4 separate regions of the Homo sapiens genome follow, and all the other regions are reported to be linked to region 1. Evidence: microRNA targets listed by miRTarBase, many of them from high-throughput screens and not tested one by one. Region 1 holds a microRNA gene; each other region holds the end of a gene's coding sequence.
Evidence for each region. Region 1 holds the annotated microRNA hsa-miR-5580-3p (CACAUAUGAAGUGAGCCAGCAC, at 2,273-2,294, opposite strand). A microRNA usually pairs through its seed, bases 2 to 8, with sites in the 3' UTR of a target mRNA and lowers its output. Matches are read on the target gene's strand: a 7mer-m8 pairs with bases 2 to 8, a 7mer-A1 pairs with bases 2 to 7 and ends in A, and an 8mer does both.

Region 2: the mRNA of GTF2H1 is a reported target of hsa-miR-5580-3p. Seed matches in the 3' UTR shown: 7mer-A1 at 839-845.
Region 3: miRTarBase lists GABRG1 as a target of hsa-miR-5580-3p. The part of its 3' UTR that is shown has no 7-base or 8-base seed match.
Region 4: the mRNA of AKAP10 is a reported target of hsa-miR-5580-3p. Seed matches in the 3' UTR shown: 7mer-A1 at 1,961-1,967.

What each region holds. Positions count from the first base shown.
Region 1 is chr14:53,946,155-53,950,306 of GRCh38, forward strand. MIR5580 (microRNA 5580) reads right to left here and starts at 2,330; the gene lies at 2,273-2,330. BMP4 (bone morphogenetic protein 4) reads right to left here. Exons shown (of 4, transcript NM_001202.6): 4 at 3,582-4,152. The coding sequence ends at 3,878. RefSeq lists enhancers at 1-194, 195-725 and a silencer at 696-745.
Region 2 is chr11:18,365,293-18,369,292 of GRCh38, forward strand. GTF2H1 (general transcription factor IIH subunit 1) reads left to right here. Exons shown (of 15, transcript NM_005316.4): 15 at 491-1,753. The coding sequence ends at 577. Among named protein-coding and RNA genes, the nearest start is that of MIR3159, 20 kb to the right of the region's middle.
Region 3 is chr4:46,037,600-46,041,599 of GRCh38, forward strand. It overlaps GABRG1 (gamma-aminobutyric acid type A receptor subunit gamma1), which reads right to left. Exons shown (of 9, transcript NM_173536.4): 9 at 1-3,655. The coding sequence ends at 3,389. Among named protein-coding and RNA genes, the nearest start is that of GABRG1, 84 kb to the right of the region's middle.
Region 4 is chr17:19,902,982-19,906,981 of GRCh38, reverse strand. It overlaps AKAP10 (A-kinase anchoring protein 10), which reads left to right. Exons shown (of 15, transcript NM_007202.4): 15 at 750-2,680. The coding sequence ends at 755. Among named protein-coding and RNA genes, the nearest start is that of ULK2, 37 kb to the right of the region's middle.

The DNA of each region.
Region 1 (4,152 bases):
TGCGGAGGTCAGCTGAGGTGCTGTCATTATGTATCATGGCTTGGCATCTCATTTCTGAAAGCAATCGTCCAGCTCCACTCTTGCACACCCGTGGCCTCTCCCGTTCACCTCCGTCCCCCGACTGTTGGGGAGCGGGGCCCTGGCTGCAGTTCAGCTGGGACCCAGGGCTCTCCGTGTCCCCAAGGGGCCCAAGACAGCGGCTCAGCCTTCAGGGCCAGTCTGCAGGTCCGACCCTCACCCAGCGGGCCTGTTTCCCACTCGCCCACGTCCCCGCTCCCATTGAGTCACCCCCATATGCAGGCCCACTGTGAGCTCGGAGGCAGGAGAGCCTCGCTCCCTAATTCCCGCTCTCTGCCCCCTACAGAAAACCCCTAAAGGTCTCGACCCCTCTTAAGCCCCTCCACCCCGGGGAGCCTTCCCCTGCAGACTCCACGCTTCTGCGCGGCCTTTTGACCCCATTTCGCATGAAATCTGCAGAGCGACCGCCCCAAGGACCAGCGAGCGCTAATCAGATCCGTCTGTGTCTGCAGAGCTTCACCTGAGGCCTGGGTCCCCGAGGGCGGATGAGCGGGCCGGCTCTCGGGCCCGGGCTGGGGGACCCGCAGTCCGCGGTCGGCGGGGATGGGGAGGGGTGGCCGCCTGCCGCGCGGCTCCCGCGGGCCGTCGCCAGGTGCACGGTCCCCCTGGTCCCCCGCAGGGAGGACGCCCCCTGGTGCCCCCGCCGCCGCCGGGCCTGGGAGCTCCAGAGCGGGCGGGAGGCGGGGTCGGCGGGGCTGGATCTTGACGCCAGTCCAAGGCCGGGTGACTACTGGGGTCTGCCCGCGCCGCGGACGCGCCGAGCCCTCTCAGTGTGGCGCTGCCCGGCGGCGAGGGGGGTGTGGAACGAAGCACGGTCAAGACAGAAAACAAAGTCAGCAGGTCACCTGGCAGGTTCTGGGCGAATTATGCAACGAAAGCAGGGGAATGTTTGATGCGTCCCACTCCACACCCCCCCAACCTTTTTTTTTTTTTTTTAAGCTCCTAGGAAGCCGGTTCCAGTTTAAGGGTTGGGTAGGGATCGACCAAGCAGCTCCTCTGATGTGGTTACGACTTTGCCGAACTCCTCAAGGGCGAGCTTCCCTCCCCATCTTTCTTTCAGTAATAGGAACATTACTCTGGAGAAAAAAAAAAAAAAAAAACATGAATGGGGTGAAATGGTAGGCTTGATCCAAAAGCAACGCCGAGAATCACCCTACGACTTCCGTCAGGTACTGAACTGAATATTAGGCAAAAATAGTAAATGCCGAAACCTAAATCACACACATCCAATTTTTTTTATTTTTTTTTTAATCTCCCCGGGTCTCAGGACTAAGCTTTCAAACAGAATTTAAAGAGTTAACGCTGGCCATAGCTCTTTGTTTTCCATGCTAACATTTGTGGCATTAGGACTATTTTGTTAACTAGGTATATGCAATTCACAGAATTTCACGGTAAATTCCCCAGACCAAATATTTGGCTGAACAAATAAACAACATTATCCATTCCTGAAAATAAGCCAGTAGGAGCGGGGAGGATGGAGGAAGGGGCTGGTTGCTAGAACTGGACAGCCACAGGGCTCAGTACTGGCCCTAGGATAATTTGTTCAAGTACTGGAGATCTACTGGTTCCTTTTCAATGACATCGACGTTTCAGAAAGTTGCTAGAAATTGGGCAAAACAAAATGAGGCTGCCTGAGGGCAATCTATAAGGGGCTTCCCTAAATGATTTATTTGAGCTCCATACCATTAATCAAAGGGGCAGCGACCTGGGGGGTTGGAGGGGTGGGGGAAGGATCCCTTTTTGCGGGGAGTTTTGGAGGAACTGTGTAGTCTTGCTGCCTTTGCCTGGGGCTCTGATGTCTTCTCTCCACCTGCGCTCTCCGGGGAGCTGGGGTTTTGGCAACCACCCCGCTTCAATTTTTATTGGTTTCCACTAAGCTGCTCCTTTTGGAGGAGTGTAGGACTTCAGTAATTAAAAACAAAAATGAATCCTGCTTCACCCACTCCACTCCCAGGAGCGTATGTAAGAAAGTGTGTACAAGAATGCAAGGGTGCACACCCCACCTAGAAAAATGCAAACGCCAGGAGTGTGCACCACACACATTCTTTGGGTGCACACACCACCAGCAACAGCAATACTACCGCTCATATCTACACCTTCATGATGGAGAAATGCGCTATCAGCCTTCCCCACAGAGAACATACAAAGACACTAAATGTTTCTGCTCCAAAGGGATCCAAAGGGATCTTGGTCTGTGCTGGCTCACTTCATATGTGTGAATTTTCTCAGCACACATATGAAATGAGCCAGCACAGACCAAGATTCAAGGCTTAATTTAGTTGTTGGTGGCAAGTAAGAAAAAGCAAAGGCCTCTCCTCTGCTCCTCTTAATCCCTACACCCGTCATTCCAGAAAGGCATTTATCTGCCTGCTGGGAGCCCTTAACTGAGGGTACATTAGCATCCTCCTTTTTATTAACTTTGTCCAAAAATTGAGCTTTTCCCTTTAAGAAACCCTAGCACAGAACATCAGATCTACCTCTTTCTGCCCAAGTCCAGGGAAGAGGGTGTGAGGGAGGCAGTACAGAGCGAAAAGGAGAGTTGACATTTGACTCGAGATTTCTGTATAATAGTGGGACACCTTCACAGTGCCTGCTTAGAAATTCTGACCCTTTAGTATCTGACCCCATTGTCAACCCCCACCCAGCCCAATCTGTTGGGATCCTAAACTTGATGAAGGCCTTCACATTGGGAAAAGAGGACAAGGGAAAAAGTCAAGAAACAATGGGAAATTCTATCAAGTGGCATATTAAAACAGTAGTCATCAAACTTTTTGAAGGTAGGGTACATTATTTGTTACAAAAAAAAAAAAAAAAGACAAAATAGCAGTGCATGCCTGTAATCCCAAAGAGGCCGAAATGAGAAGATTGCTTGAGCCCAGGAGTTCAAGACCAGCCTGGGGCAACAAAGAGAGAACTTGTTTCAAAAAAAAAAAAAGACAAAAGAAAAAACAAAAGAGTCCTACCTGGAGAAAAAAAAAATAAGTTTAAAAACATGCCTTCACACACACATTATGATGTTAGTGTACAAATTAGTTTTGATTTGGAAATATCACATTGGTACCTGTAATAACTGGAGATACCCTGAGGTATCATGAAAGCAGAGGTGGGTATCATTTTTCTAGGGTTGAGACCTCATCACGCTCAGCTGTGATACACCTCAACAGGTGAGTGAAACAGAAGATGTACAAGGGGCCTGAAATGAAGTCTTTAATCTGACCTACACTCCTTTCATCCCAGTGTTTCTCCAAGGCATGTGTCATCCAGATGGGAGAGGATACTGCATCCTTGTTAACATTAAATAGAAATAGAAAACAATTCATGCTGGCAATTACCATCTCTCTCTGCCAACAGTTTACTTCCTGTCCCTACAACTTAACCACCTCCAGGTACCACCTTTTGACTTCCATCCAGCCTCCAACTCACCTGAACAGAAAAAAGCCTCATTCAAAAGAGATGAGCCCGAAGGAAAAGAGAAAGGATTAAGGAGAAAAAAAAAATCATGATTTACCTTTAAAATAATGACTCATTTTATTTTTTTCTTTTAATACGTAGTTATAAATATATTTTGTCAAAATATATGATCAATATGGTCAAAACATTTGCACGTAAAGTCATAAATAAGGTCAAGGTGAATGTTTAGGGATTTTTTCCTTTTTTTTTTTTTTTTTTAAATAAAAGTCCAGCTATAAGGAAGCAGTCTGTGTAGTGTGTGGGTGAGTGGATGGGAACGTGTGTGTGTGGTGTATGTGGTGTGTGTGTGTGGTGTGTATATCTGTCTATCCTCAAGGACTGCCTGATCTCAGCGGCACCCACATCCCTCTACTACCATCTCCTGATAATTTTTCAGTACCACCTTATCATACTCATCCAGGTACAGCATGGAGATGGCACTCAGTTCAGTGGGCACACAACAGGCTTTGGGGATACTGGAATTGACAGAATTGACCAGGGTCTGCACAATGGCATGGTTGGTTGAGTTGAGGTGGTCAGCCAGTGGAAAGGGGCAGTCCCCATGGCAGTAGAAGGCCTGGTAGCCTGGTGGGGCCACAATCCAGTCATTCCAGCCCACATCGC
Region 2 (4,000 bases), not on the chromosome of region 1:
GCTTGGACCTGTGAGGTGGAGGCTGCAGTGAGCCAAAATCACACCATAGCACTCCAGCCTGGGTGACAGAGCAAGACTCTGTCTCAAAAAATAAAATAAAATAAAATAAAGTTTATACTACCATCCTGGCCTTAGTTGGCTGACCAGTATTCAAATCTAGAAAATCACAGATATAGTTCAGACCCCTCGTTTGACAGAAGGAATTGAGGCCTGGAGCACAATTGTGACTTTCATATTGTCCTATTATTGGTTAATGACAGGACAGCCATTACAACCGCAGCCTTTTCACTGCCCCCTACTTTCTGTCTTTCCTTTCCACACAAAATGTGTCTGACAGCACCTTCTCAGAGGGCTTGCACATTACCTCATTGACTGGGGAAATACAGAGGAGCTCCGAAACTACACTCTGAAGTGTGTGCCAGATTTGGGTTGGAAGGATTAACTTCCCCTGCTTTTGCCCAGTTGTTAAGTGTCTTGCTGTGTTTTTCAGTTGGTAAGTCACATAGAAGAGATGCTCCAGACAGCCTACAACAAGCTCCACACATGGCAGTCACGGCGTCTGATGAAGAAAACGTGAGGTGGCCATGATGCTTACAGGTTTTGTGAGATTGAGAGAACTATGACCTGCAGCAACTCTGGAAACCTGGCCTGACAGACAAGCAGATGACCTCACAGGAGTGATAAGAAACATCTGCTCCACGCCAACTCCCAGAGCTGATGCTATTGTACTTGCACATTGGAGACTGAAAGGAAAGAAGGGACTAAATGCTGGGGAGGTAAATTAAGACAGAACCAAATGAGCTAAGTTGCAAATATATATATATACACACACACACATATATGTACATGTGTATGTACATATATATTTTAAAAGACTGTTTACTGCAGTTGCTCAGGAACTGCTTTTGATTCACATTAAGCTGCTTTCAGAAATTAAAAAAACACTTTTTAAAGGGTGCATTGATAAAATCTGAGGTTTTTTGGTTGTCGTTTTTTTCTGTGTACATTTTTTTCCTAAGTTTATGGCACAGGGTAGACCTTAAGTATTCCTCCTCCATCCTTCATTCTTCACCCTCCATTGGATCCTCAAGTTTTAATGAATTCCAATTATACCTTACATCAGCAAGTTAAAAAAAGTACTTTAAAATAAAGCAAAGGGAGACTGTTGCTCAACCATCAGGAAACAGTTGTCAGAAGACATCATTGGTTCTGTGTTTCCTACGGAAATAAGAAACGATAAATATTGCACTGAATGTTTGTGGTTTGGAGTCCCTGAATAATAAAGAGGGAATATATTTGCAGAAAGTCGCATAGGGTTTTTTAATGCAGAATTTTGTCAGAAGACAATGGCGCTGCATGTTTTTCTTTGAGTGCAAATGTACATTGCTAAGATTTTTTTAAGATGGCATGTGCTTTGAAAAGAAGATATTGCATTTTTAAGAGTTTAAAAATCTTATGAGTGAGAAATATTAAAAAAATCTTATTTTCACCTCTTTAGAAGAAATAAAAGATGTTTCTCCTATCTCCTTTTCTCTAGTATTTGACTGTTACTGTCCTTGGCGAATCGATAATCATTGCATAGTGACTGAAAAGCCTAAGTGCAAAAAAAAAAAAAAAAGATGTTCTTGTTTCTGAACTTCGTGCCATATTTTGTTCCTGATGGGATCAACTTAATGTTTAAGACTTTAGATGTCTTGTATTAAAAATTACACAAAAAAAGTAAAACTTTTTATACTTACCCTTTTAACTCTAACACATCTCTGGTTTCTCATTATGTGTGAATTTCCTTGGGTGGGCTGCCTGAGAACTGTTCATTTTATTTTAGGCCATGTTACAAACTGGTTATCCTTCATATAATGACTGCTAAGGTCAGAATCTAAGCCAGGCATGGTAGCACATGCCTGTAGTTCCAGCTACTTGGGAGGCTGAGGTAGGAGGATCACTTGAGCCCAGAAGTTCAAAAGTCCAGACTGAGCAACATAGTGAGACTCCATCTCTTTTTTTACAGAAAAAAAAAGAAAAATTTATGAAGACCTTGAACTGGTAAAGGGAAAGAAGCCACATCATTTTCTGCCTTCAGTCTTCCCATTTCTCTTTCAGATCAGTATATGTACTGGTATAATCCCTTAAAATTTACACTTTCACAAAGTACTTTCAAATGTGTTACTGCTACAGTGGGGCAAATAGAAAAATGATTGAAATAAAAAAAAGTGGCTATTGGGCAAGGCAGACATAAGAAATAGAATGTTCTGTTGAGTGCTGTGTTGAAAATTAAGTTGTAAGCTGGGCATGGTGAGTCATACCTGTAATCCAGCACTTTGGGAGGCCAAGGCAAGAGGATCACTTGAGCTCAGGAATTCAAGACCAGCCTGGGCAACATAGCAAAACCTCATCTCTACTAAAAGTAAAAAAAGTTAGCTGGGCGTGGTGGTATGTGCTTGTAGTTCCAGCTGCTCTGGAGGCCGAGGCGGGAGGATTGCATGAGCCCAGGAGATTGAGGCTGCAATGAGCTATGATCACACCACTGCACTACAGCCTGGACAGTAAGACAAAGCCCTGTCTCAAAAAAAAAAAAAAAAAAAAAAAAAATATATATATATATATATATATATATATATAAAGCCTGAAGGAAAGACTTCATTTAAAAGAGCGTTTTAGCTAAGTCTTGAAGGTTGAGTAGGATTTTGTGAGGTAGAGAAGAAAGTCATCTCTTCTAGACTGAGGGAAGAGCATGATGATGAGAAGGTTTGAAAGACTGAAATATGTTAGAAGAACAGGAAAGATGTGTTAGATTGGAGAGTTGGAAGTGACAAGTAAGGCTCAGAAAACCATGTTAATTCAGGTTGTGAATGGCCTTGTATGCTAAAGTAAAATACTCAGACCTTACCTACTAGGCATGGGAGACTTGAGAGAAAGTTTTAAGCAAGTTGCTTTTATGGGGGGGTTTTCTGGTGGTGGGGGGTTAGGCAGGGGTTAAATAACTTGGCAATTAGGACAGATTTAGAAGACTTTCTGAACAAACCACACAGGAAAGCGTCTACATTAAAATGAAGTCCTGGTAAATAGGAAGGGCCTGAGTAACAGCATTTCTACAGTGTATGTGACTAACTCACAGGGAGTGAAGGAATCAAGGGTGATTCACAGAGATAGCTGTGAATTTCATGTCTAGCTTGCACTTGAAATATTTGAGCCTTGGATACCTTTAGCAATGAACTTCAGCAGCTGTATAGGCCTTTTATGGCCCTTCACCTTCTTGCGGAAAATAATAGCACCACTGATGGTTGAGGGCTGCTGTAAACCAGCATTGTGCCAAACACTTTTTCTGCTGTATCTCCCTTCCCACAACTGAAGAAGCAAGTAGATACTACAAGATTTTGTACAGATTAGAAATGGTTTAGAGGTTAAGTAATTTACCCAAATTCACACAGCTAGTAAGTGTCAGAGCTAGGATTTACCCTAAGGCTTCTCTAGTCTGGAGAAGGGATGAGATGTCTGTGAAGTTGCAAGTTGTTATTCCGCAGCCCAGGCTTCCATTGCCTAGTTTTTCCTTTGACTCCTTTGTCATTCCTGCCTGACTCTATTCTGTGCTTTACTTGTGGCAAATCGCATCATGGGATTAGTCTGCCTAGTAGGCCCTGAGGGCTATAAAATGTAATAATGTAACAACAGCATGTCCTGCCTTAGGAGAATGAGTCTTTTCTGGAAAGAAAGTCAGTAGTGGCCTAGCGCAGTGGCTCACACCTGTAATCCCAGCACTTTGGGAGGCCGAGGCGGGTGGATCACCTGAGGTCAGGAATTCGAGACCAGCCTACCCAACATGGCGAAACCCCATCTCTACTAAAAATACAAAAAATTAGTCAGGCGTGGTGGCAGGCACCTGTAATCCCAACTACTCAAGAGGCTGAGGCAGGAGAATCGCTTGAACCTGGGAAGTGGAGGCTGTGTCGAGCCGAGATCAAGCCACTCTGCTCCAGCCTGGGCAACAAGAGCGAAACTCCAT
Region 3 (4,000 bases), not on the chromosome of region 1:
AAATAATTTCAAATGTAGTATTTTTTTACAGGAAATTTTGTAAGAGTAAAAATAGGTACTGGTATAGAACTTTGAAAATATTATGCATGTATTTATTCATTCGTTATACATTTACTTAAATACTGGTTATTTATTTCAATCTACTAAAATCATCTTATTTAAAGCTCCTCTCTTGTAAAATCAAAGTGTTTTGTGTATTTTTCACAAATTTTGACCTGGAATATAATTTCACATTTATAACTATGGGGCCCTTGGTGTGAGAGAACTGTAGCCTATTCTTTTTTATGCTGAATTGGCATGAATGCAGATTTCAATTTTATTCTTGTTCTTGAGACAAAAACATTGTCTATTTTATGATGATATACTAATGCCAGAATATGGAAACACAAGTGAAAAAATCCTTATGATTGCCTTCATATTTATACACATTTACTGTGCTTAATTTAAAGTTGATCAATTTTAAAAACTTATTAAAGAAATCTGTCTTTAACTTAAAATAAAATGCCTCCAATTAGTTATCTAATTCCCACTTACATCAAGACTTCAGACTTACTGGGAAATTTTTCCCTGTCCCTGCTAAATTCTCAAGTATTCTATGTATTTTTTACTTTTTTTTAGAACTTACTTGGGTTTACAAAAATTAATTTAAGTGAGCCTAATTTTGTCCATGGAATTCGAAGATAAATAAAATATTACCCTGTCATTGTAAATCCAAAATCACATTTTCCCCTCTCAGAATTTCTAGATCCTTGTCACATATTTAGAGGATAGGTCTATATAAACAAACATTTTTACAAATGATCTTATTCCTTGTGCTCCAGGTATCCTTCCCAATTCTTTATATCTAATTTTGGGGTCTATGTTAGCATTAAAAACATTGAAAGCATCCAGGAAAATCAAGTTCCAATAAATTCAATAAATTATTATATAACTCCCCAGAGAAAGAGGAAGATTTTTTAAAAAAATTATTTCTCAAGGTGGTGAAACTTATACTTGGAATAGAGGAACAGGAAATGAACTGAATCAGCTTTGAAAAAAAGCTGTATTTGATTTCTTGAGAAAGAAGTCTAAATGTAGTTTTACCTTTTTATTCTTATTTTTAGAAATAATAAGATTTGTACGCCATTCTTTCTGATCACACATTTAAATAAAACTGATCAAAATACCACTTGCTTTGAAAACAAAGTGCTTGCTTGATGGTATATACAAGGAAAGGCATCTTTCATATATTTACAAATTTTATTTCCACTTGTAAATATTGTCAACATTTAAAACCAAGTTAATGAAACACCAGTGAGAAAATCAAAGCTATTTTTTTTCTTTTACATAGAACGTGGTTCAGAAGGAAAAGCTATTTATATCAAGCACTTTTAAGTATTTTAAAATACAGTCATGCTCAGATACACTTGAAAGAGTCCCAAAATCAAAACTGTCTCATGATAGTAAGCTATAGCTTCAAACATGAAAATAGCCATACAATATTTTAGTAAAGTATTTTATTCTTTATTACTACTTTATTTTTTATTTATCCTTAAATGAATGCTCACTTTCAAAACATCCATCAGTACTCAATGTTATTAAAATGAATGTATGAATAATCTGTAAATGAATATATAGATGGCCAAAGTTTAGTTTGGCTGTTCATTCAAGAAAAGCAGTGTCGGTGGATATTGGGCATTACCATTTGATTCATGCTTATTTTTTTCCAGAAGTTTATGAGCAAGTGAAAAAAAAAATAGAGTTAGCTGGGAACACACAGTAAATTATAAATAAATTAATTAAAAATTTAAAAAACTAGATATTTCCAATACACGTGTATAATCATGCCAGACATTCACTAACCACGCAGCGGAATTATAACATTAAAAACTAGAGTAACAATTGCAGAGGTGACAGGTTTCCTCTCAAACCTTAAGTAAGATAGGCTGTGATCATAAAACTCTTCATCATGGTCATTGGTCTTGGCAACAGAAACAATCTTTAAAGGTTATTTCCAAGCTAAACCTGGTGGTTCTCCAGAAATTTATGTGATGAATCTTATAAACAATTGGTATGTCAAGCTACTTACAGGATTATAATGATTGAAGCCTAAATTTATTCTTAACAAAAGAGACATTTTTAAAACTATTAACTGATAGATTTTACATCCAGTGAGATGCTAAGAATTTAGAGAGCACTCACATTCATGTTCATTAAAGATGCCTCTAACAAAACTCCCTCTTTAACATGATTTTGAGGCTGCCCCCAGTTTCTAGAAAAAAAAAAGAATATTATAATAATGTATAATGTAGTTGCAAAACTGACAGGGTCCAAAACTTTGGAGCTGGAAGAGGCAATATGTAACGCAGGCCTAAAACTGTTTTCTGCATATTACTAGTCTAAAAACAATGCTAATAGCACATATTTAAGATTTTGTCCTCAATATGACCGGCAACTCAGTTTGCCAGGTAATAATTTTTTAACCACGTGAGTAAATACAAGCAATGTTCCTCAATATTTTTATTTTAGGGACTGCAACACTTTCATAAAACATAAAGAAAAAAATAATCATTTCTCTCTGCATTTAATTTGCATTAATGTGCATTTGCAGATTTTAATATTTCAGTGTTAACCTCATCATACATTATAAATGCTATGAAGCAGAGAATAAAATGGTTAGATTTTACCTGATTTTTTCATCTTGCATTCTTAAAAAATGACTGGTGGCTTCATTCCAAGTTTGCAAATCACCAAAGTAAATGCAACTGGCGTTCTGTTTAATATTGTGTCAGAAAATGGACTGGATTAAAAGACAGGTAAAAATTGACCTTTTCATAAGTCTTCAGTAACTGATAGTTTAAAAATAAATCAATTTCTTCTTGGGAATACAATATCTTGGAAGAAAATCCAAGAAAACTATGGCTTTATGTTATCAACTAACTGTATTTCAAGCAGGGTAATCAAATGAAAAGCAAGAAAAAACAAATTAACAGTCTTTTTTCTGGCACAAAAGTTGCTACATAAATATTAGTAATTAGTCTTACATTACAAAACAATTATAGATTATATTTAAACAAAATATGTATTAAAATTATTCCATCTTTAAAACATGAATCATAGAACTTAAAAATTCAAAATTATAATAACATATAAGTAAATTAAAGAAAATTTAAGTAAAAATATGTGAGTATTTTAACCTACTGGATTTTGCAACTAATCAGTTTCACGTAAATTAGCCTGAAAGCTGCTACTTTATTTACTTCTGAAGGCCTTAAAATAGTTACAATACTATTCACATTTTAACCATTGGTCTCTCTGCATTTTAAATTTAAACTTCAAGTTACTGAAGCACAAAAGATTCTACTGAATTTAGTCAGACTTCTTTTGATTTTTGCTTATGAAGTAGATTTTATAAGTAAAGATAGCCAACCCAATAAACCAAGTTGAACAGGGCAAAAGCGGTTGGGAAAAATATTCTAGAATAAGAGTCAATTTTGGCAATGCGTATGTGTATCCTTCCTTCCCTCCAAGATCCTGTTCTGCAGTCTTCAAAGCAACAGAAGAAGCTGGCACAATCTTTGCCCTCCAAACACTGATACCCATAATCATCTTCTTGCGGCACAGAAATATTATTCATTGGAATCAGAGTGGATCCAGGATGGAGACCAGGAGTCATCTGAGCACAATAATAAATGAATTTTTGACATCAAAAAAGTAGCATAAGGAAAGATCAATTTGCTCCTTTAACGCAAACTCTAGGAGACTGACAGGTAATGAAAATAATCTTGATTTCAAAAAATCAAGTATTTTCAATTATAACATGTTTTATATTATAATTTGCTTTGTAATAGAACATTTGTTACATTCTATTAAGCAGAAATGAAATACCCCTGAAAAATAAAATATATTTTTATACATTTAGAAAGTTGACTCACCAAAATATCATTTACCATGGATCTAATTCTAAAATAAAATGAACTGTATATTCTATTTTATATTAAAACATTAACAGTGCTATACA
Region 4 (4,000 bases), not on the chromosome of region 1:
TACTTTAGGCAGTAAGTGTGACCTTTTGCAGGTGACTACTTTAGTTCCTCATGTCCTCATTAGTAGATCAGAGAAATTCGACACCAAAACCCCAAAAGAAAAACCCCTTCTAATCCTCATTCCATGATTTTATGAATGCATGAAGTCCTAGGCCTGCGAAGGAATACTCATTCTCTTTATCCTGTGTTGATACCTCTCTGCTTCAACCTCCAACTCGACATTTGCCTATAGGATGTACTTGGACATTCAGCATAAACTACCTCACACCATTACTGAATTGCTTCATGTGCACATGTCCCATGCCACAATACCGGGGACCTTGTCTTCCGTGATATTTGTCCGCAGTGCTGTGACTACAGGAGGGAGTCAGTGAATGTCTGCATGTGTGTCTTTACCATCCCTCTTGAATATGCTCTAGGGTTAATTCCTAGAAGTAGAATTACTCTATTGAAAATTGGCAATATTTTTCATTCTAATATCTATTGCCAACATGGGAAAGCAAGTCTGGATGCCAGTCCTTGTTATATGCCCCTTGGGTAAGTTACGTAACCTCTTTAAGCTTCTGTTCACTCATATTTTAACAAGGAAAATTACAATATTTTACCTCACAAAATTGTAGTCAGCTTCTGGCTGTCTTAAACTCTGGTATATAGTAAACACTAAGTGTTGGTGTCCATCCTTAATTTGTAATAATAGGTCACTTGTTAGAGAAATGCACCTTACCATTTTCTTTTCTTTTCTTTTTTCAGTTATGACTCAAAACTTGAGATAAAGGAAATCTGCTTGTGAAAAATAAGAGAACTTTTTTCCCTTGGTTGGATTCTTCAACACAGCCAATGAAAACAGCACTATATTTCTGATCTGTCACTGTTGTTTCCAGGAGAGAATGGGAGACAATCCTAGACTTCCACCATAATGCAGTTACCTGTAGGCATAATTGATGCACATGATGTTCACACAGTGAGAGTCTTAAAGATACAAAATGGTATTGTTTACATTACTAGAAAATTATTAGTTTTCCAATGGCAATAACCCATTTATGAGAGTGTTTTAGCCTACTGGAATAGACAGGGACCACATCCTCTGGGAAGCAGATAAGCATAGAACTGATACTTGATGCACACTCGTAGTGGTAACTCATCCCTAATCAGCATTGTAAAGCAGGTGCCAGAGGTGGTTTGCTTTGTCCTTCCAAAGCAGGTGAGTCAGCCCCACCGAGAGCCAGGCAGCTTTGAGTGGCAGCGTGGTGCTAGCAGCTTCAGCGGAACAGGGTGAGAGTTAATTATGCAGTCTTCTTGACAGCGGCATTAATTTGGAAGGAAACTGACAAGTCATGGGTCAAGTTTCAGTGACTTCCTCCTTCCTCTGATGGCAGTATATAGTTTTCACATTTTAATTCCTCCTCCTGAGATGCACTATACTTAAAACCATTCTCTCCCCTGCTAACAGAAGGGTGTGAATCTGGTTTACTTTGAGCATTAGGATTTGCCCCTTTGGAATTCTGCACTCCAGTTACTTAACTTTCCCTTCAGAATACATGTGGAAAGAAAGAAAGAAATAGCGATGACTCCACTTTTGCCCCTGTGGCACCTTGAACAAAGCAGTTCTTCCCAAATTATACTTTTTTTTTTTTTAAATAAGGTGAGCAGGATGACTGGGGAGAGAGAAACATTTGACTTTGACTGCCTCCCCCATTCTTTGCTGTGAGCTGGAAAGTGTGCAGTTGGTCGTCTTTCTTCTCCTTTCTTTAGGATAGTAAGAGACTCACTCACTGCACTTCTGCTCAGTTGGCTTCTGCATCGGGATCACACAGCCATCAGCAGGACTGCCCAGTTGGTGAGCACACTCCATTGACCACGTGGCGCCAGCGCTTCCTCAATGCACATGATTGAGAGGAAAGAAAGTTCTCTTAGATGTTACTGCTTTTGCTCAGACTTTGCAAAAAAAAAAATATATATATATATGTATAAATATATAATTATTAATCACTTTTGTCCTTGAGAAAGTCTTGAATGAACAGAGAATTTATTCCATTGCAATATTTGATTGTATAGAGGCACACTGTTTCATCGACAGAAGAAGCAAAAAGGCTTTGTGTAAGTTTTTGGTACTATGTACCACCTCTGTTATTCTTTTAAAGCTGAAGTATTCATGTACTTAAACCATATTATATTTAATTGTGTTTGATTTTAAAATATATATATATGAATTCTATTTAAAATTGTGTCAACTTTCTGCTTTCAGGGCATTTATGGCTCTTCTGTTGAAATATATTGATCTTTCCAAATATTTTCATTTGCTTTCTAAAAACCCAGAACATGAGCCACTACTGGACTTTGCCTTGTGTTTGAAGTGTATGGCATAAACCCAAGGTTTTTATTAGTCATCTATGCTGTGATTAATTCATTTTGTTCTTTTAACAAAATATTTCCATCCACTTCACATTGCTTCAATCTTTAACAGAAAAGCAATATAAAGGTTATAGAATAAAATGTGGTTTTGGGCAACTCTTGCTGCCTCTGCATGTTTTGGAATAACAATTTCTACAAGACTCTAGGCTGTTTAAACTAGTGCTTTCAGTTAAGATAAATTCTAATCATTTCTTTGTATATACATTTTGTGCTTCTGAGCTAGAGATGCCAAGTAGTTGTAAACTGCTTATAAAGAGAATAGCAGCAAATTTGAGACTCGGCTACTTTTTTCTGCCCCACCTGCTTTGAGACACAGAAGCGGAGTGTGGCCCGAAATTATTAGCCAGATTTAATATTTGATCTAAAGTAGGTCCTTGTACTCATTTTAAAGTTGGAATTTGATTCCTCCAACATTGAGCACCCACCATGTTCCAGGCTCTGTGCATTGTGCCCACAAAATAAGATTCCCTGGTGGAGTTTTTATGGGTTCAAATAATCAGTTGAACACCCTTCATCTTTATCATGTTGTTGACATTGACACAAATTGTTTAAAAAGAAAAGATATTAGAGAGAAAGTGGTACCTTTGTAACTTGATGTGTCTTCATCATTCGGTAAGATTTGATGAAAGTAAAAAGCAAATGTCAGCCAAATCCAGTGAACAGCAATAAAACAGGGAGTAACTTTTTATAACTTTTTCTACTTGGATTTCAACATTCAGTAGAGCTTTTCGAAATGTAAGTAGTTTACAGTACTGGAGGTTTGACTAGTTCAGTAGGAATTTGGAGGGGAAGGTCATTCTGAATTGTAACAAAGTACAAACTTCTTTGCTGTTTTATTTAAGTACTGAGAGCTAAGCACCTGATGAAGTGACTGACCTCTCTCCAGTGACAGTGTTTGGGTACCTGCCTGACTTCAGGAGTGGGGTTTATGTTTCTACACAGTGACCTTTTCTCTCGCCCTCTCCTCCCTCTTGCCCACACACCAGTTGATTGGACCTGGGTTGAACTCCTGATCCAGACAGGCCCAAGACAGTTCTTAATGTTAAGAATTTTGGGGCCGGGCACGGTGGCTCATGCCTGTAATTGCAACACTTTGGGAGGCCGAGACAGGCGGATCACTTGAGGTCAGGGGTTCGAGGCCAGCCTGGCCAACATGGTGAAACCCTGTCTTTACTAAAAATACAAAAATTAGCTGGGCATGGTGGCGCACGCCTGTAATCCCAGCTACGTGGGTGGCTGAGACAGGGGAATCGCTTGAACCTGGAGGCGGAGGTTGTGCAATGAGCCGAGACCGTGTCACTGCATTCCAGCCTGGGTGACAGAGGGAGACTCTGTCTCCAAAAATAAAAATAAGAAAAAGAATTTTGGGCTAGGTGCAGTGGCTCACGCCTGTAATTACAGCATTTTGGAAGGCCCAAGATGGGCAGATCACTTGAGGACAGGAGTTCGAGACCAGCCTGGACAACATGGTGAAACTCCATCTCTACTAAAAAGACAAAAGTTAGCCAGATGTGGTGATGGGCACCTATAATCCTAGCTCCTCGGGAGGCTGGGGCAGGAGAATCACTTGAACCCAGGAAGCAGAGATT